7 linked regions of the Homo sapiens genome follow. The protein of the gene in region 2 interacts with the protein of the main gene of each other region in a biochemical or structural test. Each region holds a gene or a part of one and is shown on either strand. Other genes may lie near its edges. The genes, in order: HNF4A, MED1, RARA, POU1F1, GABPA, NCOA6 and ESR2.

Evidence for each region.
Region 1: the proteins of MED1 (region 2) and HNF4A form a complex in vitro, tested with the Homo sapiens proteins (2 studies listed by BioGRID).
Region 3: the proteins of MED1 (region 2) and RARA are reported together in a solved structure, tested with the Homo sapiens proteins (2 studies listed by BioGRID, with this or other methods).
Region 4: the proteins of MED1 (region 2) and POU1F1 form a complex in vitro, tested with the Homo sapiens proteins (one study listed by BioGRID).
Region 5: the proteins of MED1 (region 2) and GABPA form a complex in vitro, tested with the Homo sapiens proteins (one study listed by BioGRID).
Region 6: the proteins of MED1 (region 2) and NCOA6 form a complex in vitro, tested with the Homo sapiens proteins (one study listed by BioGRID).
Region 7: the proteins of MED1 (region 2) and ESR2 form a complex in vitro, tested with the Homo sapiens proteins (2 studies listed by BioGRID).

Annotation. Positions count from the first base shown.
Region 1 is NC_000020.11:44,361,768-44,366,047, forward strand, and holds part of HNF4A (hepatocyte nuclear factor 4-alpha), read left to right. Parts: intron 1-4,280. UniProt on the Homo sapiens protein: Transcriptional regulator which controls the expression of hepatic genes during the transition of endodermal cells to hepatic progenitor cells, facilitating the recruitment of RNA pol II to the promoters of target genes. Activates the transcription of CYP2C38.
Region 2 is NC_000017.11:39,409,228-39,413,507, reverse strand, and holds part of MED1 (mediator of RNA polymerase II transcription subunit 1), read left to right. Parts: intron 1-2,786; coding exon 2,787-4,280. UniProt on the Homo sapiens protein: Component of the Mediator complex, a coactivator involved in the regulated transcription of nearly all RNA polymerase II-dependent genes.
Region 3 is NC_000017.11:40,311,744-40,316,023, forward strand, and holds part of RARA (retinoic acid receptor alpha), read left to right. Parts: intron 1-3,449; exon of another isoform or gene 3,450-4,280. UniProt on the Homo sapiens protein: Receptor for retinoic acid. Retinoic acid receptors bind as heterodimers to their target response elements in response to their ligands, all-trans or 9-cis retinoic acid, and regulate gene expression in various biological processes.
Region 4 is NC_000003.12:87,273,780-87,278,546, reverse strand, and holds the start of POU1F1 (pituitary-specific positive transcription factor 1), read left to right. Parts: upstream 1-1,962; 5' UTR 1,963-2,084; coding exon 2,085-2,226; intron 2,227-4,767. UniProt on the Homo sapiens protein: Transcription factor involved in the specification of the lactotrope, somatotrope, and thyrotrope phenotypes in the developing anterior pituitary. Specifically binds to the consensus sequence 5'-TAAAT-3'. Activates growth hormone and prolactin genes.
Region 5 is NC_000021.9:25,761,926-25,766,205, forward strand, and holds part of GABPA (GA-binding protein alpha chain), read left to right. Parts: intron 1-386; coding exon 387-440; intron 441-713; exon of another isoform or gene 714-1,456; intron 1,457-2,284; coding exon 2,285-2,425; intron 2,426-2,669; coding exon 2,670-2,862; intron 2,863-4,280.
Region 6 is NC_000020.11:34,818,631-34,822,910, reverse strand, and holds part of NCOA6 (nuclear receptor coactivator 6), read left to right. Parts: intron 1-1,271; exon of another isoform or gene 1,272-3,609; intron 3,610-4,280. UniProt on the Homo sapiens protein: Nuclear receptor coactivator that directly binds nuclear receptors and stimulates the transcriptional activities in a hormone-dependent fashion. Coactivates expression in an agonist- and AF2-dependent manner.
Region 7 is NC_000014.9:64,280,634-64,284,913, reverse strand, and holds part of ESR2 (estrogen receptor beta), read left to right. Parts: intron 1-1,838; 5' UTR 1,839-1,928; coding exon 1,929-2,290; intron 2,291-4,280.

The sequences.
Region 1 (4,280 bases), on a different chromosome or scaffold from region 2:
GGACAGACAAGCCAGCAGCAACCAAAGACAGAGTGCCATGATAAGGACAGCAAAGGCACTGTGGGATACAGAGGGACTTAGGAGAAGGGGAAGGGGTCACAGACTTCTTGACCTTGGAGGAGTAGACTGATATCTAAGCTGGAACCTCGGTTTAGCAGGAGTCAGCCGGGAGAAGAGACGGTGGGGAAGAGTGTTCCCAGCTGAGGGAACAGCATATGAAAAGGCCTGGAGCCTGGCCACACACTGCTCTGATTTTACTTATATTTGACTGCAATTAATTCCATCCTTTACTGAAAGTATCTTGAGACTTGTCTGGTTGTTTCATGATTGATTAATCTTATTCCTAAAAGCATGCTGAGGCTGGGCATGGTGGCTTATTGTGGATTACACGCCTGTAATCCCAGCACTTTGGGAGGCTAAGGCGGGTGGATCACTTGAGGTCAGGAGTTCCAGACCAGCCTAGTCAACATGGTGAAACCCTGTCTCTACTAAGCATACAAAAATTAGCTGGACGTGGTGCCAGGCGCCTGTAATCCCAGCTACTCGGGAGGCTGAGGCAGGAGAATCACTTGAACGCAGGTGGTGGAGGTTGCAGTGAGCCGAGGTTGTACCACTGCACTCCAACCTGGGCAACAGAGGGAAACTTGTCTTAAAAAAAAAAAAAAAAAAAAAAAGCATGCTGAGATGCTTAAGTGAAGGAATTGTGCCTTCCATTTTTCCTGACTCATATGCCTGTAGCATAAGGATGGGTCAATGATAACGAAAGGAATTTGTTTTCATTTAAGCCCCTTTTATGTAATGGGCAAGATGTTGGCTATTTGATATGTTTTCTCCCTTTTAAGCCTTGCAATAACCCATCCAAGTAGGAAATATTATCTCCATTTTATAAACAAAGAAATTGAGATTCAGAGTTGTTAAGTCACGTTTCCCTGCATCGCCTTGCAAATAGGTGATTAAAATCTAGTCTGACACCAAATCTTCATTCTTTCAGCTATTATGTCATAATAGCATCCAAGGAGTTTACCACCTTCTACCACCTACTAGCTGTGTGACCTTGAGTGAATGACTCAATTCTCTTTTTTTTTTTTTTTTGAGACGGAGTCTTGCTCTGCTGCCCAGGCTGGAGTGCAATGGTATGATCCTGGCTCACTGCAACCTCTGCCTCCTGGGTTCAAACAATTCTCCTGCCTCAGCCTCCTGAGTAGCTGGGATTGTAGCTGGGGTTACAAGCGCCTGCCACCATGCCTGGCTAATTTTTTTTTATTTTTAGTAGAGATGGGGTTTCACCATGTTCGCCAGGCTAGTTTTGAACTCCTGACCTCAAGTGATCTGCCCGCCTCGGCCTCCCAAAGTGCTGGGATTACAGGCCTGAGCCACTGCGCCCGGCCGACCCAATCTTTTTTGCCTCAGTTTCCTCATCTGTCAAATGGGGTTGATGATAATACCATTTACTTCACAGGGTTGTTGTGAGACATAAAGTCAATATTTGTAAAGTGCTGAGTGTCTAGCACATAGAAAGTGCTATGTGAATTTGAACGATTATTATTATTATACCTATAGTGTGTGCATCTACTATATGCAAAGGACTGGATGCTTACTAGGTGTTAGCATCATTTTGGCTGTTGTAGAAACAACAGAGATGAGTAAGGAATAGATAACTGGTCCCAGGATGCAACTGTCTCTGGCTGGAGACTAAGGACAAGGCTTTGTTGCAAGCCTTCTGGGGCCCTGGGATGCCCAGGGTCTCCTCTTGGGGGTGCTGGTTCATAGATGGGGGCCTGTGTGGCTCCTTCACAGAGGAGGAGGCAGATGAGAGGCATAGAAAGGGAGGGGACAGACCTATCCTCATCAGAGACCTGGGAGATGGCTCTGGCCCTGGCCCTGGGTAGCTGTTTGTGACCTCACTCAAGTCCTTCTCCTGCTGTTTCTCCATCTACTCTTTTTTTTTTTTTTTTTTTTTTGAGACAGAGTCTCAATGTCACCCAGTGGCTCTATCTCTGCTCACTGTAACCTCCACCTCCTGGGTTCAAGCAATTCTCATGCCTCAGCCTCCCAAGTAGCTGGGATTGCACGTGTGTGCCACCACACCTGACAAATTTTTGTAGTCTTGGTAGAGATGGGTTTCACCATGTTGGCTAGGCTGGACTCCTGGCCTCTTGTGATCCTCCCACCTCGGCCTCCCAAAGTGCTGGGATTACAGGTGTAAGCCACAGCACCCAGCCTCCATTTCCTCTTTTGAGAAATGGAGGTATGACAACCATCTGGCTCAGCCATTGTCACACAGTATTCCCTGGGTCCTAAGAGTCAGGAAAGATGCTGCAGGGTTCCCTTTGAGGGTAATGTGGGTAGGGACGTGTTCAAATGGACTAGGGCTTAGCCTCTCCCCACCCTTCAACCTCTGGCTCCATCAGAGACACTTCTTTTTGACTTTTGTATATTTCTTTTTATTTTATTTTAGAGACAGGGGTCTCGCTATGTTGCCCAGGCTAGCCTCAAACTCCTGGGCTCAAGCAATCCTCCCGCCTCAGCCTCCCAGCCCCTGGGATTACCTGCTCATGCCACTGCACCCGGCACTCTGTTTTGACTTTTAAATGAAATATTTAATGGAGGGTCTCCACAGTTCAAAAATATTTGGAAAATCAGAAGACCACACCAGTGTGTTTCAAACTGCAATCTTAACCCAGGAATAGGTCATGCAATTTTTTTTTTATTTTTTTTTTCTAGATGGAGTCTTGCTCTGTCACCCAGGCTGGAGTGCAGCGGCACGATCTTGGCTCACTGCAACCTCCGCCTCCTGGGTTCAAGCAATTCTCTGCCTCAGCTTCCTGAGTAGCTGGGATTACAGGTGCCCACCACCGCGGCCAGCTACTTTTTGTATTTTTACTAGAGACGGACTTTCACCATCTTGGCCAGGCTGGTCTTGAACTCCTGACCTCGTGATCCACCTGCCCCGACCTCCCAAAGTGCTGGGGTTACAGGTGTGAGCCACCGTGCCCAGCCGGTCCTTCAATTTATTGGGATTATATTAGTTCAGACAATATAGCTTATGTAACAAGCAAATGCAGACTTTAAGTTAGAAGTTTATTGACCTCTGTGGCATAGTCATCCAGGGACCCCTAAGGTCACCCTAGCCCAGAAAGACACTTTCACTTCTACTCACATTCCATTGGTGAGAACTAGTCACATGGCCCTTGCCAAATGCAAGGGGGTCTGGAAGATGTGGTCCCTAGCGGGGCGGGACTAGCTGTAAAGTTTGTAAAGGGGAGCGTGAATTAGTTGGTACACAGTTGATCGTCTGTGCAGTAGGGTCATGCTCACACGTCCCTCCACACACACACGTTAAATATGTATAACAAGTGTAAATATACAATTTAAAAAAGTATCTTTTTTTTTTGGTTTGTTTTTGTTTTGTTGTTGTTTTTGAAACAGGGTCTTGCTCTGTCATGTGGGCTACAGTGAGCCACAATCATGGTTCACTGCAGCCTCAACCTCCCAAGCTCAAGCAATCCTTCCATCTAAGCCTCCCAAGTAGCTGGGACCACAGGTGCATGCCACCATGCCCAGCTAATTTTTTATTTTTATTTTTTTGTAGTGACAGGTCTTGCTGTGTTGCACAGGCTGGTTTCCTACTCCTGTCCTCAATCTTCCTGCATCAGCCTCCCAAAATGCCGGGATTACAGGTGTGAGCTACTGCACCTGGCCTTTACAATTTTTTACATAAAATGTTTCAATAAAAAAGTGCATAGATAGATACAGAGATAGCAATAAAGCAAATGTGACAGAATGCAACCAGTTGGTGAATTTAGGCGAAGGGATACATCAGTGCTCACTATACTAGTCTTTCAAACTTTAAAGTTTGAAATTTTTCAAAGTAAAATATTGGAGAAAATGAAATTCTTAAAATTTACTAGACCTATAAGTAGACTAAAACAATAAGTTATAACTAAAGTAAGATTTGGCCGGACGCCGTGGCTCATGCCTGTAATCCCAGCACTTTGGGAGGCTGAGGTGGGTGAATCACTTGACCCCAGGAGTTCAAGACCAGCCTGGGCAATATGGCAAAAACCCACCTCTACAAAAAACACAAAAATTAGCTGGGCCTGGTGGTACACGCCTGTAGTCCCACCTACTCGGGAGGCTGAGGCAAGAGGATTGCTTGAGCCCAAGAGGTGAAGGTTGCTGTGAGCCGAGATTACAACACCACACTCCAGCCTGGGTGACACAGCGTAATCCTAGTGCTTTGGGAGGTCAAGGCAGAAAAATTGCCACCACACCTGGAC
Region 2 (4,280 bases):
GGCAGATTACTTGAGGTCAGGAGTTCGAGACCAGCCTGGCCAACATGTTGAGATGTCATCTCTATAAAAATACGAAAATTAACCGAGCATGGTGGTATCCGTCTGTCATTCTAGCTACTTGAGAGGCTGAGGCAGGAGAATCACTTGAACCTGGGAATCGGAGGTTGCGGTGAGCCAAGATTGCGCCACTGTTCTTTAGCCTGGGTGATAGAGTGAGATTCTGTCTCAAAACAAACAAACTAACTAAATAAATAAAAATATAAAAATTAGCCAGGTGTGGTGGCAGGTGCCTATAATCCCAGCTACTCAGGAGGCTGAGGCGGGAGAATTGCTTGAACCTGGGAGGCGGAGGCTGCAGTGAGCCGAGATTGTGCCACTCCACTCCAGCCTGGTAGACAGAGCAAGATGCCATCTCAAAACAAACAAAAAGCCAACTTAATTGTTACGTGATAGTTAAGCCAGTATGCATCCCAGAACCATTAATATGTAATTTTTTGAGATTTTTCTACAGCTGGGTCTGGCAGCCTATTTTTGTAAATAAATTTTATTGGAACACTGCTGTTCATTTACATGTCTGTGGCAGATTTCTAGTTAATATTGCAGAGTAGGTGAACAGGAAACAAGACCTACAAAGCCTAACGGATTACTATATGGCCTTATAAGAAAAATTTGCGGCCGGGTGCGGGGGTCACCCCTGTAATCCTAGCACTTTGGGAGGCTGAGGCGGGTAAATCACGAGGTCAGGAGTTCAAGACCAGCCTGGCCAAGATGGTGAAACCCCATCTCTACTAAAAATACAAAAATTAGCTGGGCGTGGTGGCGGGCTTCTGTAATCCCAGCTACTTGGGAGGCTGAGGCAGAGAATTGCTTGAACCTGGGAGGCGGAAGTTGCGGTAAGCCAAGATCATGCCACTGCACTCCAGCCTGGATAACAGAGCGAGACTCTGTCTCAAAGAAAAAAAAAAAAAAAAAAAGAAAAATTTGCTGGCTGGGTGTGGTGGCTCACGCCTATAATCCCAGCACTTTGGGAGGTGGGTGGATCGCCTGAGGTCAGGAGTTCGAGACCAGCCTGACTGACATGGAGAAACCCTGTCTCTACTAAAAATACAGAATTAGCTGGGCGTGATGGCGCATGGCTGTAATCCCAGCTACTCGAGAGGCTGAGGCAGGAGAATCACTTGAACCTGGGAGGTGGAGGTTGCAGTGAGCCAAGATCGCGCCATTGCACTCCAGCCTGGGCAACAAGAGCAAAACTCCGTCTCAAAAAAAAAAAAAAAAAGAAAAAAAAATTTGCTGACATATGTTCTAGAGCAAAACGTTTGCAAACTGAGGTTTATGAATATAAATTTATCTGGAAAATAAAAAGTGCTTTGCTTTAAAATAAACAAGATTTATAACAGAAATAGCACTTTTTATAATAGTGTAGGTTTGGGATGATCTAAGTCATTAAGGTTTAGTACTTAATGGGTCAAGAGATTTTTCTTTTCTTTTTTTTTTTTTTGAGATGGAGTCTTGTACTGTCACCTGGGCTGGAGTGCCATGGCACAATCTCAGCTCACTGCAACCTCTGCTTCCCGGGTTCAAGCAATTCTGCCTCAGCCTCCCAAGTAGTTGGGATTACAGGCACCTGCCACCATGCCCAGCTAATTTTTTGTATTTTTTCTTTTTTTTAGTAGAGATGGGGTTTCACTATGTTGGCCAGGCTGGTCTCAAAACTCCTGACCCTGTGATCCACCCGCCTCGGCCTCCCAAAGTGCTGGGATTACAGGCGTGAGCCACTCTGACCGGCGGAGATTTTTCTAATGGTTCCTTAATTAAAATAAATTATGTATCCCTGTAATTACCATATGAAGCCCCCCAGAGGACGACATTTTCTTTTTTCCTTTGAAATGAAGTCTTGCACTGTCACCAAGGCTGGCGTGCAATGGGACGATCTTGGCTCGCTGCGATCTCTGCCTCCTGGGTTCAAGTGATTCTCCTGTCTACCCTTCCTGAGTAGCTGGGATTACAGCTGTGCACCGCCACGGCTGGCTAATTTTTTGTATTTTTAGTAGAGACAGGGTTTCACCCCGCTGGCCAGGCTGGTCTCAAACTCCTGACCCGAAGTGATCCACCCTCCTCGGCCTTCCAAAGTGCTGGGATTGCAGGAGTGAGCCACCGCGCCCGACCTAAGGAGGCATTTTTTTTTTTGAGACGGAGTCTCACTCTGTTGCCAAGCTGGAGTGCAGTGGTGTGATCTCAGTGCAATGCAACCTCCGCCTCCCTTGTTCAAGCAATTCTCCTGCCTCAACCTCCCGAGTAGCTGGGATTACAGGCACGCGCCACCACGCCCAGCTAATTTTTGTATTTTTAGTAGAGACGGGGTTTCACCATGTTGGCCAGGATGGTGTCGATCTCCTGACCTCATGTTCCAGCCGCCTTGGCCTCCCAAAGTGCTGGGATTACAGGCGTGAGCCACTGTGCCCGGCCCCTAAGGAGGCATTTTCTTACTGAGTTCCATTATTACCAATTTTCTTTTAGTTAAGTTTGAAATTCAATTATTTGGACTCTTGTTTATAGTTTGCTTTTGTTGTGTGATTCATAAGAGGTTGACAATTTTATGTTGGGTTAGATTTTTAGAATGTATTTACCCAAAGCTCTGGTATTTGATAGAACTATTTTTGTCTTACAGATTATTTGCCCTACCTGAAAACTGCTTACTGCAAAACTCTGATGTTATATCTAAATCTCAGGTCTCATTCAGCAGCTATTGCAATGTTAACTTTGTTTTCTTCTTTATTTTGCAGATGTATGTCCATCCCTGTGACGATGAGGGCTATTCGGAGGAAAGCTGAAACCATTCAAGCCGACACCCCAGCACTGTCCCTCATTGCAGAGACAGTTGAAGACATGGTGAAAAAGAACCTGCCCCCGGCTAGCAGCCCAGGGTATGGCATGACCACAGGCAACAACCCAATGAGTGGTACCACTACACCAACCAACACCTTTCCGGGGGGTCCCATTACCACCTTGTTTAATATGAGCATGAGCATCAAAGATCGGCATGAGTCGGTGGGCCATGGGGAGGACTTCAGCAAGGTGTCTCAGAACCCAATTCTTACCAGTTTGTTGCAAATCACAGGGAACGGGGGGTCTACCATTGGCTCGAGTCCGACCCCTCCTCATCACACGCCGCCACCTGTCTCTTCGATGGCCGGCAACACCAAGAACCACCCGATGCTCATGAACCTTCTTAAAGATAATCCTGCCCAGGATTTCTCAACCCTTTATGGAAGCAGCCCTTTAGAAAGGCAGAACTCCTCTTCCGGCTCACCCCGCATGGAAATATGCTCGGGGAGCAACAAGACCAAGAAAAAGAAGTCATCAAGATTACCACCTGAGAAACCAAAGCACCAGACTGAAGATGACTTTCAGAGGGAGCTATTTTCAATGGATGTTGACTCACAGAACCCTATCTTTGATGTCAACATGACAGCTGACACGCTGGATACGCCACACATCACTCCAGCTCCAAGCCAGTGTAGCACTCCCCCAACAACTTACCCACAACCAGTACCTCACCCCCAACCCAGTATTCAAAGGATGGTCCGACTATCCAGTTCAGACAGCATTGGCCCAGATGTAACTGACATCCTTTCAGACATTGCAGAAGAAGCTTCTAAACTTCCCAGCACTAGTGATGATTGCCCAGCCATTGGCACCCCTCTTCGAGATTCTTCAAGCTCTGGGCATTCTCAGAGTACCCTGTTTGACTCTGATGTCTTTCAAACTAACAATAATGAAAATCCATACACTGATCCAGCTGATCTTATTGCAGATGCTGCTGGAAGCCCCAGTAGTGACTCTCCTACCAATCATTTTTTTCATGATGGAGTAGATTTCAATCCTGATTTATTGAACAGCCAGAGCCAAAGTGGTTTTGGAGAAGAATATTTTGATGAAAGCAGCCAAAGTGGGGATAATGATGATTTCAAAGGATTTGCATCTCAGGCACTAAATACTTTGGGGGTGCCAATGCTTGGAGGTGATAATGGGGAGACCAAGTTTAAGGGCAATAACCAAGCCGACACAGTTGATTTCAGTATTATTTCAGTAGCCGGCAAAGCTTTAGCTCCTGCAGATCTTATGGAGCATCACAGTGGTAGTCAGGGTCCTTTACTGACCACTGGGGACTTAGGGAAAGAAAAGACTCAAAAGAGGGTAAAGGAAGGCAATGGCACCAGTAATAGTACTCTCTCGGGGCCCGGATTAGACAGCAAACCAGGGAAGCGCAGTCGGAC
Region 3 (4,280 bases), 900 kb from region 2:
CTGGTTTCCTTCCTCCTTTGTGGGGAGGGCCTTCCCCTAGGGCTGGGAGGTGTCAGGAATCCCAGGTGGGACAGGGGTGGGGGCACAGTAGCCTCTGGCACTGTAGCACCCCAGCTTCTCCCTCCTAGCCTCTGACTCAGCTTGGGGGCAGCACATGCCCAGCCTGGCAGGCATGGCCTATTCTTGCCTCCAGGCTTCTCTCTTTACAGAAGCCTACATCTCCTGCTCTCATTTTTTAGTTTTTTTCCCCATGATATCTGCAGGTGGCTAGTGAAATCCCTGGTTTTGGGGAGCAAGGGACTAACATAATTGAGGCTGGGGCACTATTTTGTCTTCCCTCCAGTTGGGCCAGGATGAAGGAGACTGTCACAAACTTCCCCAAGCCAATTCCTTCTGCCCTCAAAAGACCAGTCAGTGGAGCCAGGCCCTGCCCTTTGGGTGCCCACAATGTGGTTGGCACTGATTTGTCAGAAATTGGGAAGGTTTCCCTCTAGACCGCTTGCCTCCTTTCTCCTCCTCCCGCAGGGTAGGGGCAGCTCTGTGATTGCAGGCACTTATGGGCAGGCCTCCCCCTAGGAAAGGGGTGTGGGATGCCCCCAGGATGGCCAAGTTGGCGCTAGCCCCAGGCTGGAGTGCTGGACATGATTCTGACCTGGGAGTTAGTGGGGGTAAGGCAGGGCATGGGCCTCCCTGCCCCCCTCATTTCCTGCTCTTTGGGCAGCTGTGGGCGAGAAAGGCTGCAGGGACTATTTTTAGTTGGTCAGTCCCCTGGCAGGAGGGACGTGCAGAAAAGCACGGGGCAGGCAGAGGGGCTGGCCAAGGTGAGGGTAAGCAGGCAGGCAGAGGAGTGAGGAAGGGCCAGAGGGGCAGAAGACAGCAAGGAGGCATGGGGAGCAGGGGCAGGACCTTACCCAGAGGGGCATGACCCAGGTAGATGGGCCGGGCTGGACTGGGTGGAAGAGTCCTGGCACCCTACAGGGTTTTCTTTATCCAGCTGGACTCAGAGCTGGAAGGGGTTTTAGAGGCTACCTAGGCAATCCCTTCCCCTTGCAGAGAAGGAAACTGAGGCCTAGAGAGAACACTCAATCAGTCATTGGCTGTGTTGAGACCTGAACCCAGGCCCTCCCTTTGCACCATTTTTCTGTTGTCATGGTTCCTCACCACAGCTCAGTGTGCTTCCCTTCCCTACTGCAGCAAGGAGGACCACGAGCCAGGCACACCTGGTCCATTTTCCCATCTGCTTTTTTGTGCAGGGTCTCTGAAAATCCCAGCTTGGTTTGTTTATAAGTCTCCATGTGGAAAGAGTCTGTGTCCAGGCTAGAAGGAGGTCAGAGTTGGGTTTGTTTGGGTGGCCTGTGGCCACTGGTGTGAATGGAGCTGCTGGACAGGCTCCAGCAGGCTCACAGGCTGGTGAGCTGTGGGGCTAGGAGACACCTTACAGAAGGGACGTCCAGACTCCCCAGAGCCCTTTGTGAGCCCTCCTCCTGCCCTGCCCAGGACCTGTGGGTCATGGTGGTTGTTTGCCCATCTCCCCAACAAAAGAAGGGAGCAGGGCTGAGGAGTGGGGAGATTACTACTGGCTTCTGATCGCTAGTCAGAAGGAGGCCCCCTCTGAGGCCTGGAGGCAGGGAAAGTTGGGGCAAGTTGGGGTGTGTATGGGGAGAAAACTCAATGGAGAATTGTGGTCCCTCAGAATTCAGTCTGCTTTCTGTCTTCTGCCTCAGGCTCTCCCCACAGGCCACCATGCTGCACAGCTGCAGGGGGAACCATTCCATAGACTATGATGTGAATGGCACCCCCTGGGGTTGTTCAAGGCCCTGCCTGTGTAGCCACACGTGGTGCATCTGTCTCCCACCTTCTTCCTTCAAATTAGTTCAGACCCACCTGGAAGGAGGTGTTCCAGACAGGCCTTAATCCAACACCCTCTCCCCTACCCTGCCTCATGCCACTCAACATCTCCTATTCCTCTGCTGCCCACCCCCAACGCACCAAGCAAGTCATGGTGCACCACCAATTGTGGTTCAGAAGCCCCTCCCCTTCTCTCTACGCAGTTTCTGTGTCTCTTGGGGGCTGATTTATCATACCCCCCATCAAGCCTACTGCAGTGTGTGAGAAATCAATAGTGCAAATGGATTGAGGCTGTTTAGCCTGTCAACTCTCCTTGGGCCCCACCAACTCTTCTGGGACTTGCGGAGTTGCTCAGTCCCCTTCTGGCTCAACATACACATATTTAGTGGTTGTAGCCAGAGCACTGAGCACAGGAATTATTCTTTCTGTTGGTCTCTGTCTCATTCTCTCTCATATACTAGGCTGGTCTTAACATGACAAATACTCTTGAACATTTATTTTCTAGCTTGGGTGGACGGGCTTAAAGGGCAGTAGGCTGCCAGCCAGAGGTAGGGAGGGAGGCAGGTGGGTGAGGGATATGGCGGGTGGAGGGGTGGGGTGGGGGTGGGGACGAGCTGGGGAAGGGATTGGGTGACAGCCCACCCCATCAGCTCTGGTAACTCAATCCCTGCACCCCACCCTCCCAATTTCCCTCCTGCTCAACAACTTCAGCAGCTGCTGGCAGAAGCAAGGCTGGCAGAAGTGTGTTTGAGTGCATGTGTATATGAGGGGAGAGGGTGAGAGGGGCTGTGGGGGCAGGGAGTGCTGCCAGGACATGTTAAAGGAGACTCACAGCCTGGGTACAACTTGGGTGGCAGGAGGAGGTGGGGCAGGTGGGAGAGTGGGTGGTGAGTGATGGGCAGGCTGCAGTGGGGGCAGGGCAGCACAGGGGTCTCACAAAACTTGTTGGCACTGGAGCGGGGCCTGGTGTGGTGGGGGTGGGCAGTGGTGAGGGGGCAGGGGCTGGCACAGACATTGCTGGCCCCAGAATGCTGAGGCCCATTCTTTGCCAGGGGGCGCATGTAACCATGGAGGGACAGTCTGCCCCTGTCTGCAATCCTTGGGCTGTGCCTGCTGGGCATCACAGTCTTGGTGGTGACTAAGTCACTTCTGTCCTGGGGCTGGCAAGGTGCCAGGCTCAGCTCTTCTCGGTAGGTGAGTCACTGCCCTGGCATCTCCCCCGGATGCAGCTGAGTCACCCAGCCATGCCTGCTAGGCAGGTGGGCACCAGGCTTGTGGTGGGGGTGGAGGGCTATGTGTGCAGCCCCCAGTGTCTTCTCTGATCTCTCTCTGGCATGTCCTGGCCCCACCCATAAACCTGCAGAGCCAGGCAAGGATGGCGCTTCTCCCTTGTGATCCACTAAGGGGTGAAGGAAAAGGTAGCAGGGCACAGAGTGGAGTCATACATGTTTGATTTGGAGTAAGTAGGGGAGGAAAGAGTTGAGGAGGGAACATTGATTGGGTTATATGTATATATATATATATATATATGCTTATATGTGTATATATATATATATATATATATATATATATATATATATACACACACACACACACACACACACGTATATATTTATTTATTTTAACAAAAAAGACACAGGGTCTTGCTATGTTGCCCAGACAGGTCTTGAACTCCTGGAGTCAAGCAACTCCTGGCGTCCCATCTTGGCCTCCCAAAGTGCTAGAATTAAAGGTGTGAGCCACCATACCTGGCCTGGGTTTGAATCCCAGCCCTGCCATTGACAAGCTGTATGACGTTGAGGAAGGCAATTTTCTTTTTGAGCCTCAGTTTTTTCATCTCTACAATGGCAACAGGAGCCTGCCCCTTCAGGACTGTGAGAATCAAATGGAGTGGGACTATTAAGGTACTTGTGGGAGGAGCTCCTTTTGGGATGAGCTAGGAGGCTTGGGAGGGGAAGAGGAGTCAGCTGGAGCTGGTTCCAACAAACTCCCGCACCATGGTCTTGGAGGGCCAATTGCTTCTCATCATCTCTTCGGAGTATCACTTAATGCTGTTCTTCAGGAGTTTCCACAGGCTGTGAGAAGACAGCCTTGTTGTACTAGAAGTGTGGGCCCTCCTAGGGTGTCTCAGAGCTATATTTTATCTCTTTTGACTACTGAGAACTGCCACTGGCCCTGGTACCTGTCCAGACTCTCTTCCTTCACTTCCTCTAGTTTGAAGAGGGATGGGGCTCAGACTCCTCCCCCAGCCTATCTCCTGTGTGCAGGGAAACAGTAGGCCCCAAGGAGTGTCCTTCTTAGAGTGAGGCGCCCCGAGCCTGTGGCTTTTCTCTCTCTGCTAGTTTCCTGCTGCTCCCTGGGTACCCTTCTCTCCTCCTGCATCAGAGTCCCTGGTGGGAGGGGGTGGTGGAAGCCCTGTTATGAGCCCAGCA
Region 4 (4,767 bases), on a different chromosome or scaffold from region 2:
AATGCAAGTTAGTAATGTTTTCAAGATGTTAAAAGTTTGTAAGACTTAAGCTTAGTAATTCTACTTCTAAGAATCTATCTTAAAGGGGTACATTCCAGATAATCCTATAGATATATTGTATCGTAGAAGACTGTAATGGAAACATTTATTTCCTGGCTTTACCTCATTTTAACAGAACAGGTGTTTAATTTTTAAAAATGATTATGGAAGAAATTCTACGATTGCAATTTAAAACTTTTTAGATATCATGGTAAATAACTGGGAAAATTTTATATTGTTTGCTAGGCAGGTTTTATGGTACTTCATAAAGTATCTTCAGTATACTTCATAAAGTATATTTTTCACATACTTTACCAACATATTCCAATGACTTTATATAACAATAGTAAAATTATTAAGGGACATTTTCAAATTACATTTTCTATAAATATCATTTAGCTTAATTTTTAACATACATGATACCCAATAAACACACTTTTATTTAATTTTCTTAACAGAAACTCCAAATAGACATACTGAAAATCACCTTTTTGTATATGTGAAGTCTGAAAATGATCAGAATTCTGCAAGGGTATAATAATGCTTTTGATTACTTGAAACTTTCTCTCATTAGAAAAGACTAATAAAGCTTCAAAGATATAGAATTCAGAATGAAAAAATATGTCATTTTTAGAATAAATATTTTCATTCCATATCTAATGATTTAGGCAAGCTTTTACATATTTTCCTTCAAAATATCAGCTGCTTACTGACAAAGTGTTCAAGTTTTTGAAAATGTCTTATCAATATTAACATGAAATTTGATACAAAGCAACCAATTCCAAATTATCTTAAAACATTCCGTAGTACAAAATTAGTGTCTACTCACATCAATAATATCTATTCCTGTTCGCTTACTTCTATTTGCTATATTACCTTAATATACAATACATAAATAGTATTTTATTTACTCATTACATACTCATAAATCATGATCATTGTAAAGTTTTGATGCTGTTATTTATCTTTGAAATAGTTGGCTGTAGCATATTATTTTTTTCATTCTCATATAAAGTCAATATATTTTGTGTGAGAAGTTTGCATCTAGTTAGCAACTACCATGGTTATCTCAGGCTTTGTGGCACAGAGTCTAGCTTAGTGAGAATGGCAAGGTACATAACTCACATAGATGTTGTGAGATTTGCATGACGTAACTGTATAAATACCTAGAATACTGTCAGCATCTAGTAACAGCTTACTAAATATTGGGTTCTTGAGTGAATTGAAATCGAGGTAAAGATAACAATTACCCATATCTTAGTTGTATTTAACTTTGGTGCAGTAGTGGTTGCGGTTCTTGCCATTAATGCAATCACTTTTGCACCAACCTATCATTACTACATTTTATCCAATTTTTTTCCATTTTTCACTTATAATATAGTAAAACTTATATTGGTTGTCATCGTTTTTAAAAGCTGTGCATTTTTGAGTATGAATCATTAATTGACAACATATTTTCTCATGTTTAGTATTATATGCTTCTCTCATAATCTTAAATATTGTTTCTTAAAATTATGTATAATACTATGCACTTCTTTTGTTTCATGTTTTATCGCAGATTTAATGAGAAGTTGTTTAAAAAAATCTCATATTTATACATTTGCAATTGTGTTAGTAGCAAAAAGATACCTACTATTTTTCAATTGATTGTGGCATTATTTTTTTGAGGGACGTGTTTTCAAAATTGTTGATTCCTCTCTAAAAGGTCTGAACTACTGAAGTTGTCAAATAAGGTTTCAGATTTCTCCCTTCCCCTCCATCTATACCCCAGAATCAGCTTCCTTCTCTGCCATGGATTATGTTTGGGGTAAAAAAGGAAGACGGTTCAGATTGATAAAGCAATACTCCTGGGAAAAGACTATTAACATGTATAAAGGGATTTCCTTGCAGTATAAATACTAGCGCGCACCCTCCTGGTGCCTCAGAGCCTTCCTGATGTATATATGCAGGTAGTGAGAATTGAATCGGCCCTTTGAGACAGTAATATAATAAAACTCTGATTTGGGGAGCAGCGGTTCTCCTTATTTTTCTACTCTCTTGTGGGAATGAGTTGCCAAGCTTTTACTTCGGCTGATACCTTTATACCTCTGAATTCTGACGCCTCTGCAACTCTGCCTCTGATAATGCATCACAGTGCTGCCGAGTGTCTACCAGTCTCCAACCATGCCACCAATGTGATGTCTACAGGTACTGACTCCTATGACAGTTTACATATGACCGGGCCTAAATATTTCAGAATGAATGCTTTGAATCTTGATAGTTAATAATCTCTTTGCATCTTTCATTTTACCCCTCCAATTTAATTTGTCTTAAGTGAAGTAAGCATTAAGCATATCTAAAAAGCCAACATGCCAAATAAATTTTAAAGAAATATTAGTAAGTGTAGTAATTTAAAATCACTGTTGGCTTTGTTGTAAGGAAGAAAATCTGTTTTCTACATAAGAAAAGAATGAACTTGGACATTTTAAATCTAAAAACCTTTTTAATGGAAATATTTATAGAATAAGGAGCAAATGAAATGAATATTATAAAATAACAATATTTAAAAGGTGCTACTTCTTTATCTTAAAGGTTTATTCGGTTGTTAAATTACATTTACTATCTAAAAACAGCTATAAACCTTATATTAAACACAACAGAACAATCTGAATATCAACAACAATGGATTTCATAGAATAAAATAGAGTTTTAATTAACATATTTTAGCATAAGATACAGAAATTATAGCAAGAAATAACATGACATTTAAAGCCCATTAACTAAGGTAAATTTTCTCAAAATTGCATTCTGAAGAGACTTACTTCACTTCTAAGTTTTAACATTTATCTCACATAACTTTTTAGAACAAAAATTAAACCTAAGAATTCACAGGCTCAACACAATCAGCCAAATACATATGTTTTGCCAGTGTGTTCATTCTTTATGCAGTAACAAAGTGTTTTAGAGTTGATTTACAAATGGAGAAAGACTTGAATTGGGTAAATTTCTTCCATTGAATAGCAATATAATATTCACTTTCCACTTGTTTTAAATGCAATTTTTCTCATATTTAGGAATGAAATTATATACATTTAGAAATCAAAGTTTGAGTTGATACATTATTCTGATTTGAAGGATTTAAGCTCTATCTTTTGTTATTATTAAGCATTTTCTAAATACATGCGTAAGTTTGGCACCAATCTTCTGGTGGATTTTAAAGAATCTAGAGGTCAGATATTTAGACTTTGGTAAAATCATTTAATGTAGAGATTTTTCAATATTACCTTTTAAATTAAATTTCAGGAATCCGCCAAAGATTTCTGTAATTTAATTTAAAGGGTAATACAGGAAGTATCCTCCAACATAATTTTTGGAAGACACAATAGTTTTTATCAAAAATATATGCTATAAATAAATCTAAGCAATTACCACATAGCTAATCACATATTTTAAATAGTAGGTCATCCTATAGATTGAGAATAATGAGAATAATACACTATTTCTGTGTTTGAAGATAATTTGGCCAGCATGAAAATACAATTCAGAATCGAGGTAATAATCTAGTAAAATCTAATTTTATACTCAAAATGCCATTTATTTACTTTAAAATAAGTAACAATTTATTTAGTAAATTAGCCTATCCTGTATTTAACTTCCTAAAATCTGAAAAGCAAAAATTATTTAAGCCTTAAAATTAAAAAAGAATTATAATTAATAAAAGTGACCTACAAATGTTTTAAATGATAATAGCATTGATTTATAATTTTTTAATGAAATTTGAATCATATACATCTAATTGTCTAAGGAACTATTATAGAAACACTGACTTTAATGGGAACACTTGAGTATTAAATATGTTTAATGATAATTTGCTTAATTTTGGAATGCACAGTAATGCATTATATGTAATCATTATATTGCAAAATGACTTTAGTTCTTTTGAGCTATTAATTATAAAATAAAAATGTATACAGATTTTTAAAAATTAAAGATTTTTCTCTATTTTAAAATAATTTATTTTACTTTATGAAGAAAGGCATGTCTTTAATCACTAGTTTGTATATTGGTATTCTCAAAGGATTCTAACCATACTTTATAATATCTCATTTATTCAAGAAAATTAATTTATGAAAATTAACCAATATATTCAGAATATGAAGGAAAAAATTGAGAAAATAAAATATATAAGGAAATATTGGTTTTATTGTCAATATTTTGTGCTCCCTATCAACTTGATGATTTGTGTTTAAAACTTGATAAAAGTCTAATAATTCCAGTTTACTTCCAAAATACACATTGATTTCCTGAAGCATATAACCATTTATGAACGGTTATGTTTATGTACGGCTTTATGGCTTTATGGATATTAAGTCACTCAATGAATGAACTCATTTTTTGACCAGCTTTATCATTAGAATGGTTGTATCAATTGTGTATATGCAGACAACTAACAACCTCATGGTTTCAACATCAAAATAAATAGATCATATATTGTTACAGGTTTTTAATAGCACTCTGAATGCAGTGAGATTTTTATGATTGTATCTAATAAAAGGCTACTTGCTCTGCCATTTCCACTTTGATGAAACAAATTTGTTAGACAAATAAGCAAAAATACGCTGTTCAAGAGTGAATTTCTGTATTCATTCATACAGACTGCTTTATAATACCATGCAACACAAGAATTTTAAAGGACTATTCTTCTAGTCGGCGAGTTGCAATGTCTGCATTGAACAGAACCAACAAGCA
Region 5 (4,280 bases), on a different chromosome or scaffold from region 2:
TGGAGATACGTACCTAAATAATTTAATTTTGGTGTATATTTTATCTTTGATCTGATCTTGAAGATTTCCATATTTTTACATGGCTTTATGTGGATTTCAATACAAATGTTTACATTTAGAAAACCATAGTTCTCTGCAGAACTTTACTGAACACTAAAAGACATTGGAGCTTTTCCCTGTGTTATTTCTCTTAAGGTATCTTTTCCTTTTAAAGTGACTATCAAATATTTTTAAGGTTTTTATGCCAGTAAGTTTCAGTTCAGTGTTTTGGTTTTAATTGTGGAGTTCTTTTTAAAAGAACCATGTTTATTAAGTTGAGTTTTATTGGATTGGGGTTTTTATATTTTTGGTTTTAAATAAAAACAAAAAATTTTTGTTTTTTTCAGATGTATTGGCAAGTCAAGAACAACAGATGAATGAAATAGTTACAATTGATCAACGTGAGTATTTGTACCTATATTTGCCCTTTTATTAATAAGAAATGTTTATTTGATACCGCAAGGTAATAAAAAGGAAAATTATTTAAAAAAATTTTTTTTCTACACACAAAATATCTTTTGTTCTGTGGAATGAAAGCTCGACACAAGTACTTTATAAGATCCACTCATGTGTTTTTAAATGATACGATTAACATAACAGCTTGCTTTGTATCTCAGTTCACCAAAATTTGTTAGGACATCATTTGTTTCATCTTTACTGACTGTTAATTACCAAGTTGTAAGAACAATTCTAACCACATTCATACCTGACAGAACTTTCATGCCTGATAATAACTGGATATTAGGTAGCATCCAATTGAAATATCAGTATAGGTTGGATACAGCAGAGAAAATATTCAAGTGTCCAAAACAAACTTGAGGAGTTACAATGGGTTTGAAATGAAGAAAAAAGGCCAAGTTAAAATAGGAAAACAAATAGTTTTCATTTGGTGGGAGTTGCAATCAAAGTATACAGTTGTATACATTCTAATGGATCATCTGTCCCATGTGGCATTTTCCAAGGCTTGAAGAGTCTACCAGGGCAAACCCTTCGCCGCCTCCACTACTTTTGCTTGGCTTTTCCCCTTTCTTTTCTCTCGCTTTGCCTTCAGCTTTATTCTTTACCTTTGATTCATCTATATTGGGTACTGTACTTGCTAGAAGTACAGTCTAGAAGAGTCTTTTTGTTTCTCTTAATATCCATCTCCATTTTCATGTCATCTTTTCCATCTTTTACCTCATGTTGCATTTTCTCTTGGCATGTTTGGGTTTGGGTACCACCACAGTTGCTGTCTCTTAAACATCTTTCATTAAAACATTACTGTCTAGTTTGAGAATACTTTTAAGCCTGCTGAGCTCTTTTGGGGCATTTTTCCCCCCTTTTCAGCATGCATCTTTCTTTTCCGCTTATGCCATAAGCTTTTAGCTATGTTTTACCTGAGGTACGAACACACACGTCACAAGATCATCCCAACCGGCTAAAATTTTTAATGAGGAATTTGAGATACACAAAGAAAGTATAACTAACACCTGTGTACATCATTAGAAATAAAATTTTTTACACCAAGTATACCTGTTGTAGGTTTCATTTTCCTCTCTCCTACCAGAGAACTATCTTGAATTTTATGTTTATTACTGTCTGCATATTTTATATTTTTACCAACTATGTAATCGTAAACACTGTATAGCATTGTTTTCCACATGTTTAAACATTGTTTGTAAAATAATACATTGTACATATTATTTTATAACTTTTTTATCATTTGAGAATTACTCATGTTGATACTTGCAGCTGTTTCATTCATTTTCACTGCTGTATCTTTTAAATGCTGTGAAAACATCATTGAATGAATATTTGTAAGAACATGTGTGAGATGTTCGTGTCATAGGGTTTCTATCCTTTCAGCCTTACTCCAGATATTGCCAGATTCTCAAAGTGGTGGTGTGAATTCTCATTTGTCCACATTTAGTACAATATATTTGACAAACCGTTTTTATGAACAAATGTTTTAAGAACAAACATGTTTAAATACTCTTTGTCTAATGTGTATGCATCACTAAGTTATTTCCAAACAAGAATACTAGCTCTTACTAAGATGCACAAACTATAATGCAAGCGTTATACTTTACCATCTGAACTTTTTTGTTATTTTGTTTGAAATTGTGGATTGAGGCTTTCTGTAGTGAAGTACTTTCTTGGGGGTAATTCATAGGGCATTAGTTAAAGTGATAATGTCTTTCAGTAATTTTTTTTTTTTCCTGCTTGTATTGGAAGAAAAAAAATTTCTCCTTGTCTGTCTTTGCAGCTGTGCAAATTATTCCAGCATCAGTGCAATCTGCTACACCTACTACCATTAAAGTTATAAATAGTAGTGCGAAAGCAGCCAAAGTACAAAGAGCGCCGAGGATTTCAGGAGAAGATAGAAGCTCACCTGGGAACAGAACAGGTATTTTTGTATTTTCTTGTATTTATAAAATATATCTATCTAATTAGGTATATTTTGTTGTATTTTACTGTATGAAAAATGTGAATTTGGACTATCCCTCTGGCAGTTTTTAGACAGCATTTCTAGAAAAACAAAAATTGTTTTTGCCATGGCTGAGATTTAAACCACGGGACCAGTTTGTTGTCTTTGCCTTGGGCTAATCTATAACACTATAGCTAATGCTTTGTTCCTCTTACCAATTTAGGAAACAATGGCCAAATCCAACTATGGCAGTTTTTGCTAGAACTTCTTACTGATAAGGACGCTCGAGACTGCATTTCTTGGGTTGGTGATGAAGGTGAATTTAAGCTAAATCAGCCTGAACTGGTTGCACAGAAATGGGGACAGCGTAAAAATAAGCCTACGATGAACTATGAGAAACTCAGTCGTGCATTAAGGTAAGCCTTTATTACTTTTTTTTCTGTTATCAAAAATAGAAACTTTCTAAAAAATAGTTTCTTATTCTAGATGTAATAAGCATTGTTATGTAATGATATTAAAAACTTGTTTATGTTTTTTTCTTTACATATTAAAAAACCTTTTTAAAAAGATCTTAATAATTTCGAGGTACAGTTTTTTTTTTACAAAATTACTCTAAGATTGTTTGTTTTTATCTGATTTGAAAGCTATAATACTCTGTCCCAAAAAAAAATGTTTAATTTTTGAGGTTTTTATTATTTGCATAGATGAATTGAGTGTTAGTTTTTAATGAGTAAGCAGAAACTGTCCTCTGTTTTTACAATTACAAGCAGAATATTGACCCATTTTCTACACAATCTGCCTAAATCTGGATATCCAATCTTTACATTGATACAAACTCTCCGTAAGTAGTATAAGGTTTTTTGACAGAAATTACTATCAGAAATTATGCCTACTACAGTGATGGAAATTCAACAGGTACATTTAAGTATCTGAGAAGAAGGATATATAAGAATATCACGGAATTATGTCTGATTTTTTGGGAGATTGAATATAGTAAAATAGTTCTGCAATTCACGAGTTTTTCTAAATAGCATGCTTTTACTGCTTCTTCATGTTTCACTTGGCCATTTTCACACTGAAAGATTATAATTTAGCTCACACACACACACTCTCCCTTCCCCTTTCCATCCCTTCATCTCAGTATCCCAATATAATTATATGGAAATTTTGGTTCAGCGAGTATTCATTGTTACAGTATTACGGCCATGTAACTATTATTACATAGTTGGCTGTGATTATTTTTCTTTTCCTGAATGACCCTTTTTTTCTCAGAGTTCATGAGTAACTAAAATGTTTAGTTTTCAAAATGCTTATCCTTTACCATTCAGTCTCAAACACATTGCCAACTGTCTAAAGATTCTTCGTTTATAATCATAATTAAAGCTGCCATTTTTGAGAGTTGATACAGATTGTATACATACAAGTCCCCTCAAAATTACAGGTAAATTGTTAGAGTTAATAATTAAGATGTCAGTTCCCCCCCAGATTGATCTAAGTTTCAGTGCAGCAACTTAGTTTAATTTGAAAAATCAAACTAAGTTTTTCATAGAACTTGAGAAGATAATTGTAAAATTTACATGGGACTATAAAGTACCATGGTAGTCAGGACACCTGAAGATTAGCAAAGTGGAAAGACTTGTCCCACAGGATATTGAGACTGACTCTAAAGTTACAGTAATAAGACAGTTATGCTATTTTCTCAAGACAAATAGGCCATACAGTAGAATAGGGAGCCAAAATAGAACCAGGAATATGTAAGCATTTGATTTAAAGAAATGGCAGTGGGGAGAAAACATATGAGGAAACGACCTGCTTTTCAATAATCAGTGCTGGG
Region 6 (4,280 bases), on a different chromosome or scaffold from region 2:
CTAATACTAGAATGGTATGTTACCTACACTCATATTTGAATAGAATGGTAATTTTCAGTTAAAAGTTAGTAAAAGAGATTTTTTTCTCCCTGTCCAAGTTCACAAGCCCCACTGAAGTCCTATCTATAGACTCCTGTCTATGAACCCCAGGTTAAGAAACCCTACTCCTACTGCCAGGCATGTCTTCCATTCAGCAAACGTTTACTGTGCCTCAAGGCATCTACTGCATATCAAGCATTATACTGGGCTCTGTAGCTTCAGAAGTTTTTAAGGCAGAGTCACTTCACTTTGGGTATGCAGCCCCATGAGTGAAGTAGACATGTGAACAATCATAGTTCAGGATGGTCGATGCCAAAGAAGAGTTATTAAACGCTATAAGGACACGGAGATGGGTGTGTCTGCTCAAAGAATCAGGGAAGGTGTTGCGAAGGGGTGACATTTGAGATGTGTCCTAAAAGATACAGGAATTTGCCAGTGAAATGGAGAGAAGGGCCTTTCAGGTAAAGACACGTTTTCAGGGAATGTATTAATAACTGAATGTGGCTGGAGCATAGAATGTGTGTGAAAGCATGGCCAGAGATGAGACTAGGAAGACCATGTTAGGAACCTGGTTGTGAAGGACCTTGCTAAGGAGTTTGGACTGAATCCTTAGCTGAGAGAGGCATTCAAGATCTTCGAGAAGGGGAGTATGTGGTGGAGGTTTAATTTCTAGGAGATAAATGGATGTTCTTTGGAAGGAGGGTAGACTGAAGACCAGAGAGGTAATGAGGATCTGAACTAAGGCAGAGACTGTGGGCACTGAGCAGAGTTAGAAGTAATGAGGATCTGAACTAAGGCAGAGACTGTGGGCACTGAGCAGAGTTAGAAGTAATGAGGATCTGAACTAAGGCAGAGGCTGTGGGCATTGAGTGGAGTTAGAATTTGCAGGTGTTGATTATTGACATTGTGAGTGGCTTAGGGGGAGTTTTTTAAATTTCTGGTTTGGGGTGGTGTCTGTCAAAGAGGTTTAAAAAAGTGAAAGGAAGTCTGGGCGTGTTGGCTCACGCCTGTAATCCCAGCACTTTGGGAGGCCGAGGCGGGCGGATCACGAGGTCAGGAGATCGAGACCATCCTGGCTAACATGGTGAAACCCCATCTCTACTAAAAATACAAAAAATTAGCCGGGCGTGGTGGCGGGCGCCTGTAGTCGCAGCTACTCGGGAGGCTGAGGCAGGAGAATGGTGTGAACCCGGGAGGCGGAGCTTGCAGTGAGCCGAGATCGCACCACTGCACTCCAGCCCAGGCAACAGAGCGTGACTCCGTCTCAAAAAAAAAAAAAAAAGTGAAAGGAAAATGAGGGGAGAATTCTCATTGATAATAAGGGCGAAAAGGTTTTTTTGGCAGAGTAATAGAGTTTTGGAAACCATTGCAAAGCTGTCAAGTGTGGTGTAGTTTTTGGTTAAGGAAATCAGAGGTGTCAGCAGACATAAAAGACAGGGGAAAACATGGGAAGTGTCCTACCTATAGTGTAGAAAAAGCACAACTATCTATGTCAGAGGTCGACAGACTGTGGTCCATAGGTCAAATCTGGCCCACGATCTGTTTTTGTAAATAACGTTTTATTGGAACATAGCCACACTCATTTATTTATATATTGTCCATATCTTCTTTTGTGGTACCAATAGCAGAGTTGAGTAGTCGTGACAGAGATGTGTTGTGTCAGCTCACAAAGCTGGAAATACTCTTTACAAAAACATTTGCCAACCCCTGATCTATGTGTTTGAGTGTTGGATGTTCAACCTCTAATTTGCCATCCAATGTCTATATGATGATAGAGAATGAATAAACGTCTTGGCTCTGCCCTTTGGGCTGGATTACCCATGCTCTGTGTACCTGCAGCATAACACAGACCCCTGAATATTTATATCAGTCAGTGATGGCAAGGTCTATTGTTCTGGAGTGTACTGTGTGGTAACTGTGGTAGTGCCAGCTTTACACGGATTAGATAATGCTCGGGCTTGTTTTGCCATTTTTTTTATTGGGTTGTCTTTTACAAAAGATTTATTTATATATTCTGATTATTAATCCTTTGTTGTTGGTAGATATTACAGATGTCATTTCCCAGTTTCTTGCTTATTTTAATTTTTTTTTTTTTTTTTTTGAGATGAAGTCTTGCTCTGTCGCCCAGGCTGGAGTGCAGTCGTGCCATCTCAGCTCATTGTAACCTCCGTCTCCCAGGTTCAAGTGATTCTCTTGCCTCAGCCTCCCAAGTAGCTGGGACTACAGGCATGTGCCACCACACCTGGCTGATTTTTGTGTTTTTAGTAGGGATGGGGTTTCATCATGTTGGCCAGGCTGGTCTCAAACTCCTGACCTCAAGTGATCCACCCGTCTTGGCCTCCTAAAGTGCTGGGATTACAGGTGTGAGCCACTGCGCCTGGCCTGTTGCTTATTTTAAAACATCTGTTTTAAGGTGTCATTTGTTAAAAAGTTCTGAATTTTAGTATCAACTTTATCAATCTTTTCCTTTAAGATTTGCAGTTATTCTTTGTTTTGAGGCAGGGTCTCGCTCTGTCACCGAGGCTGGAGTGCAGTGGTGCGATCTCGGCTCACTGCAGCCTCAACCTCCTGGGCTCAAGCAACCCTCCCACCTCCCATGCCAGTTGAGACCACAGGCATGCGCCACCATGCCCTGCTACTTTTTGCATTTTTTGTAGAGGCGGGGTTTCGCCATGTTGCCCAGGCTAGTCTGGAACTCCTGAGCTCAAGCAGTCCACAAAGTGCTGGGATTACAGGTGTGAGCTACTGTGCCCAGCCTGCAATTATTCTTTATATTCTGGAATACCTACTGTTGTTTTCAATGGTTAGATCTTTAATGTATCTGGAATGGATTCTTATGTGTAGTGTAAGGTCGGGTCCAGTTTCATTTTTTTTCCCTATGTATAACCAGTGATCCCAGCATCATTTATTGAATGGGGCTTGCTTTCAAATTGTGAGCTCTTTTTGGTGGAGTCTGTCTCAGGTCCTTATTAAGCACTGCTGCTTGCTGATTGTGTGACCTTGGACAAATAAAACCTCATTGCGCCTCAGTCTTTAAGGATAATAGTAATCTCATAGGGTTTTGTGAGGATTAAATGAGTCAATATACATAACGTGTAAAACAGTGCTTGGCACCTAGAACATGCTCAATAAATATTAGCTGTACTTTAGCACTACTGTTCATTTCTGATTCCTCAGCACCTGGTACAGAGCAGGGGCTCATTTTGCTCAATTAAATTGCCAAATTAATTTGGTTTTCAGGTCAATCAGAATGGTGAGAGTTGGGCTGAGTGTTGCAGGAGATGCTTCCAAGGAGCTACTTAGTTTTAGGGGCTGCCTTAGATTATCTGCTAGGATAGAACTCTTCTCACGCCATCACTTTTGCAGAGAACTTCTGTAGCAGAGGTTGCAAACTGGCAACCTGTGGTTGGATTTGACCTGTATAAGTATTTTGTTTGGTTTACACAATATTTTTAATGTCTTAAAAATGTACACAGACCTCTGAGTTTCTGACTTAACCTTGAAAAATTGGAAGATCTGTCAACAGCAAGCCCATATTCATTTATAGCGGTAACCAGCTGAAACTTTTAGGTGAGATGTGTTTCCTAGTTCTCCATAGTCTGCCTTGCTGTCTTGCTTTGCTCTTTATTTTTATGGCCCTGCAGACATTTAATTTTCTGATTCTTACTTTATTGAGGTATTGAATATTGTCTCCCCCAAACCAGTAAATGACATATTGGGATGGTGGGGGGGATGGCCAGAAATTGACAGATGAGTTTGTGGGCAAGTAAATACTAAAACCTATTTCTAAGGATGAGCCATACTTGATCATAATGAATAGAATGATAAATGAAATTAAAAGATGAGGTGAAATTCAGCTTAGCTCCTTGAATATTTAGGCATCTACTATGTATTAAGTACTGTATTAGAAATTACCACATTGGTGATAGAAAATTAGCTGGCCAGCTTTATGAAATACTGTAGAAGAACTCTTTTTACTTGTATTGTGGAGCTGTTGTCTAAGAGAGTGGTTGGACGAGAAAGGAAATATAGGTATTATTTTCTCAAACATTTGTTGAGCCCTACCATGTATTCTGGAAACTGGCTAGAACTCTGCAAGATACCAAGATGAATCTAGCCAAGGTTTCTATGCTGAGGAATGTCTGTAATGTGTTATGGAGCTGGGATACTAGAGAATGGTACCTGAAAGAGGTGGTCTGTGAACGAAGCTGCCAAGAATAGTTAGTATCTTAATACTTGGA
Region 7 (4,280 bases), on a different chromosome or scaffold from region 2:
TGCGCCACTGCACTCCAGCCTGGGTGACAGTGCGAGACTCCGTCTCAAAAAAAAAAAAAAAAAGTAATGCGATAATGAGAGCTTACTTCAAGATGGCAGCAAAAGACAGTGGAAAAAAGGCATTGGGAAAAAAAGCCAATGTGCCTTGATGAGTAAAGTTAACTGAGTCAAGGGGAGAAGTCAAAGGTAACTATGATGGGCTTTTTCTATTAACACAAATAGGAAATGAGTGGTTTTGGGAAAGAAAGTGATGAATTACCCCTCAGATATTGTATTAATTGTCTATTACTGTGGCCGGGCATGGTAGCTCATGCCTGTAATCCCAGCACTTTGGGAGGCCGAAACAGGCAGATCACTTGAGGTCAGGAGTTCGAGACCAGCCTGGCCAACACGGTGAAACCCTGTCTCTACTAAAAATACAAAAATTAGTGTGGTGGTGTATGCCTGTAATCCCAGCTACTCAGGAGGCTGAGACATGATAATTGCTTGAACCTGGGAGGCAGAGATTGCAGTGAGCTGATATGGCGCCATTGCACTCCAGCCTAGGCAACAAGAGTGAAACTCCATCTCAAAAAAAAAGATTTGCCTGTAATCAGCCAGCACCCCCAGCCTTGTGCTCACTTTACATACAAAAATTCTGTTTTTTAGAGCATAAATTGAAGGGCACATTCAAAACTGATACGTAGGCCAGGCATGGTGACTTATGCCTGTAATCCCAGCACTTTGGGAGACCGAGGCAGGTGGATCACTCGAGATCAGGAGTTTGAGACCAGCCTGGCCAACGTGGTGAAACCCCATCCCTACTAAAAAATACAACAAATTAGCCAGTCACAGTGGTGCGCACCCATAGTCTCAGCTACTCGTGAGGCTGAGGCAGGAGAATCACTAGAACCTGGGAGGCAGGAGGTTGCAGTGAGCCGAGATCATGCCACTGCACTCCAGCCTGGGTGACAGAGTGAGACCTTGTCTCAAAAACAAAGACAAAACCAAAACAAAACAAAACTGAGAAGCAACAGATTGATAAGTGACACAGTTACACTGGTCAGTCTCTTCAGCTAATACCCATTGTTTTTTATTATTGGAGATTCATAATGTGTTTTCTTTCTTTTAAAAACTTTTTTCGGAAATGGTAATTTCTCTCTTTTTTTTTTTTTTTTTTTTTTTTTGAGACAGGGTCTCACTCTATCACCCAGGCTGGAGCGCGGTGGCACAATCTCTGCTCACTACAACCTCTGCCTCCTGGGCTTGAGCAATCACACCTCAGCCTCTTGAGTAGCTGGGACAACAGGCACATGCCACCATTCCTGGCTAATTTTTAGTAGAGACGGGGTTTCACCATGTTGCCCAGGCTGGTCTCGAACTCCTGACCTCAAGTAATCTGCCCACCTCAGCCTCCCAAAGTATTGGGATTACAGGCGTGAGCCACTACGCTTGGCCTCATAGCGTATTTTAATATTGGTTGAGACTAGCCTTGCTCATTGATCTTCTCTTAGCGTTTACTTGGTTATTCTTGCTTATTTTTCCATAAGAACTTTCATTTTTATTTAATCCTGTGTTTTTTGGTTTTAAAGACTATTTTATAATAAATTTTCGTGATTAAACTCTTGTGCTTAAACTCTTGATTAAACAAACAAGCAATGAAGAGATGAATGAAGCAGAAAATGTGAGTTTCATGCCTCACATTCCCACTCCTCTGAGGTTAATATTTTCATGTATATTTTTCAGGATGTATTTGTAATCTCATACAAACGTATGTATTTTTTTAATGAAAATATTTAAATTTTCATAGTTAACAGCTGTAGCTCTAACTTGGCAATATCTTCTGTGTTTCTTTACAGCCATTATACTTGCCCACGAATCTTTGAGAACATTATAATGACCTTTGTGCCTCTTCTTGCAAGGTGTTTTCTCAGCTGTTATCTCAAGACATGGATATAAAAAACTCACCATCTAGCCTTAATTCTCCTTCCTCCTACAACTGCAGTCAATCCATCTTACCCCTGGAGCACGGCTCCATATACATACCTTCCTCCTATGTAGACAGCCACCATGAATATCCAGCCATGACATTCTATAGCCCTGCTGTGATGAATTACAGCATTCCCAGCAATGTCACTAACTTGGAAGGTGGGCCTGGTCGGCAGACCACAAGCCCAAATGTGTTGTGGCCAACACCTGGGCACCTTTCTCCTTTAGTGGTCCATCGCCAGTTATCACATCTGTATGCGGAACCTCAAAAGAGTCCCTGGTGTGAAGCAAGATCGCTAGAACACACCTTACCTGTAAACAGGTAAGTCCAGTCTTCATTCTGAATTATAGTTGCTAGCCATTTCTCAAATCACTTTATGGTTGAGTGAGAAGGAAATAATATGTTAGACAAGGTCTTTATTGTATTAATTACATAGTTTACTTACAGCACCCAAAACACAGGATGCCCTGTTCTATTCTGATATTTTAGTTCTCATTAAAAACTGGTATGTGTACATCAGTGTTGTGGGGAGAATTTGCTATCATGACTATTGTCTTTATACAGTAAATACTGAACTTAAGTCACTCCTTTTCTTTTTTTGAGACAGGGTCTCGCTCTGTCACTCAGACTGGAGTATAATGGCACGATTGCGGCTCACTGCAACCTTCACCTCCTGGGTTCAAGCAATTCTCGTGCCTTAGTCTCCCGAGTAGCTGGGATTACAGGCGCGTGCCACCACGCCCAGCTCATTTTTTAAATTTTTAGTAGAGACAGGGTTTCACCATGTTGGCTAGGCTGGTCTTGAACTCCTGACCTCAAATGATCCACCTGCCTTGGCCTCCCAAAGTGCTGGGATTACAGACGTGATGAACACTGTGCCTGGTCTGAACTTAAGTCACTCTTAATGGAGTTATTTGGATTTGAAAAATGAATTTTTACTTTACTTTCAGTTTCAAAGTCTTCTTATAGTGAAACCACAATTTAATGTTCATGACAAATTGTTTCCAGGATAAAAGTAACTGTGATAGTATTACAACTTAAATGAAATTCTAGACATGCGAAGCATGAAAAGATAGATGATTGGTATAAGCTTTTTAACCATGAACTAAAATAATAACATTATATAAAGATTGGTGGAAACTATTGAAGTTTAGGCTTCAGTTGACATTCCCTGAAGTTAAAAAGGATATGTGTACTCTTTAAATGCAAGGTAACATAATGGATTATTTCCATCTAATTATTAATATTTCTAATGATAATCATAGGTATGAAGGGAATGGATAGTATAATGAGAAAGGAGAGGGGGAGATAAAAATCTAAAAGTACTAAGGGCATGTTGGATATTGAAATTCACTACTTTCAAATATTATCATAAAACTTTGAGACAGTAACATTGCACCATTATTTTTCTTCTTTTAAAAACATTTTACTCATTGGTAAAGAGAATATAAACATTGTGGATAACTTTTTTAAAGTAATGGTTTGTTTTTTTTTTCTCCTTCCTCCTTTAAAGGAAGACATATTTTGTTTCTGAGCATGAATTATAATCAAAGTTCTGCTAATTTTTGGGCAAATTAATCCATTATATAATTACCTTCATTTATAAATCAATAATACCTTTACCATTCCCTTTCCAAAAGAACCATGCCTGGCAACATCAGGAACTAGCCAGATGTGTTTTGGAGGCTGCCTGGGGATCCCTTGTTAGACTTTTCGTTCCTTTATGAACCTCTTGCCTGTGGTCCAGCATTGAGCCTCTGCTTCCTTCCAAGCCTTTCCAGGCCAGGCACTTGCTTGTTCTCTCTCTTCTCTTCTCTCTTCTTTTTTCTCTCTCCCTTTCTCTTCTCTTCCCCCTTTTTCTTGTCTCACATTCATCTCAAGGTAACTTAAAGTCCATTTGTTATTCCTCTTAAAGTTATTTTTATTTTATTTTTTTGAGATGGAGTCTCACTCTGTTGCCCAGGCTGGAGTGCAGTGGCACAGTCTTGGCTCACTGCAACCTCTGCCTCCCGGGTTCAAGCAATCTCCTGCTTCATCCTCCAAAGTAGCTGGGATTACAGGTGTGCACCACCATGTCTGGCTAATTTTTGTATTTTTAGTAGAGATAGGGTTTCACCTTGTTGGCCAAGCTGGTCTCGAACTTCTGGCCTCAGGTGATACGCCCACCTTGGCTCCCCAATGTGCTAGGATTACAGGCATGAACCATTGCGCCCAACCTGAAAGTTATTTTAAATCTAGACCTTTATCTGAAATTGCAGAGTGTGAGATGTTTGTTCTCCATTTAAATGGGAACTTCAAATGTCTGAAGGGC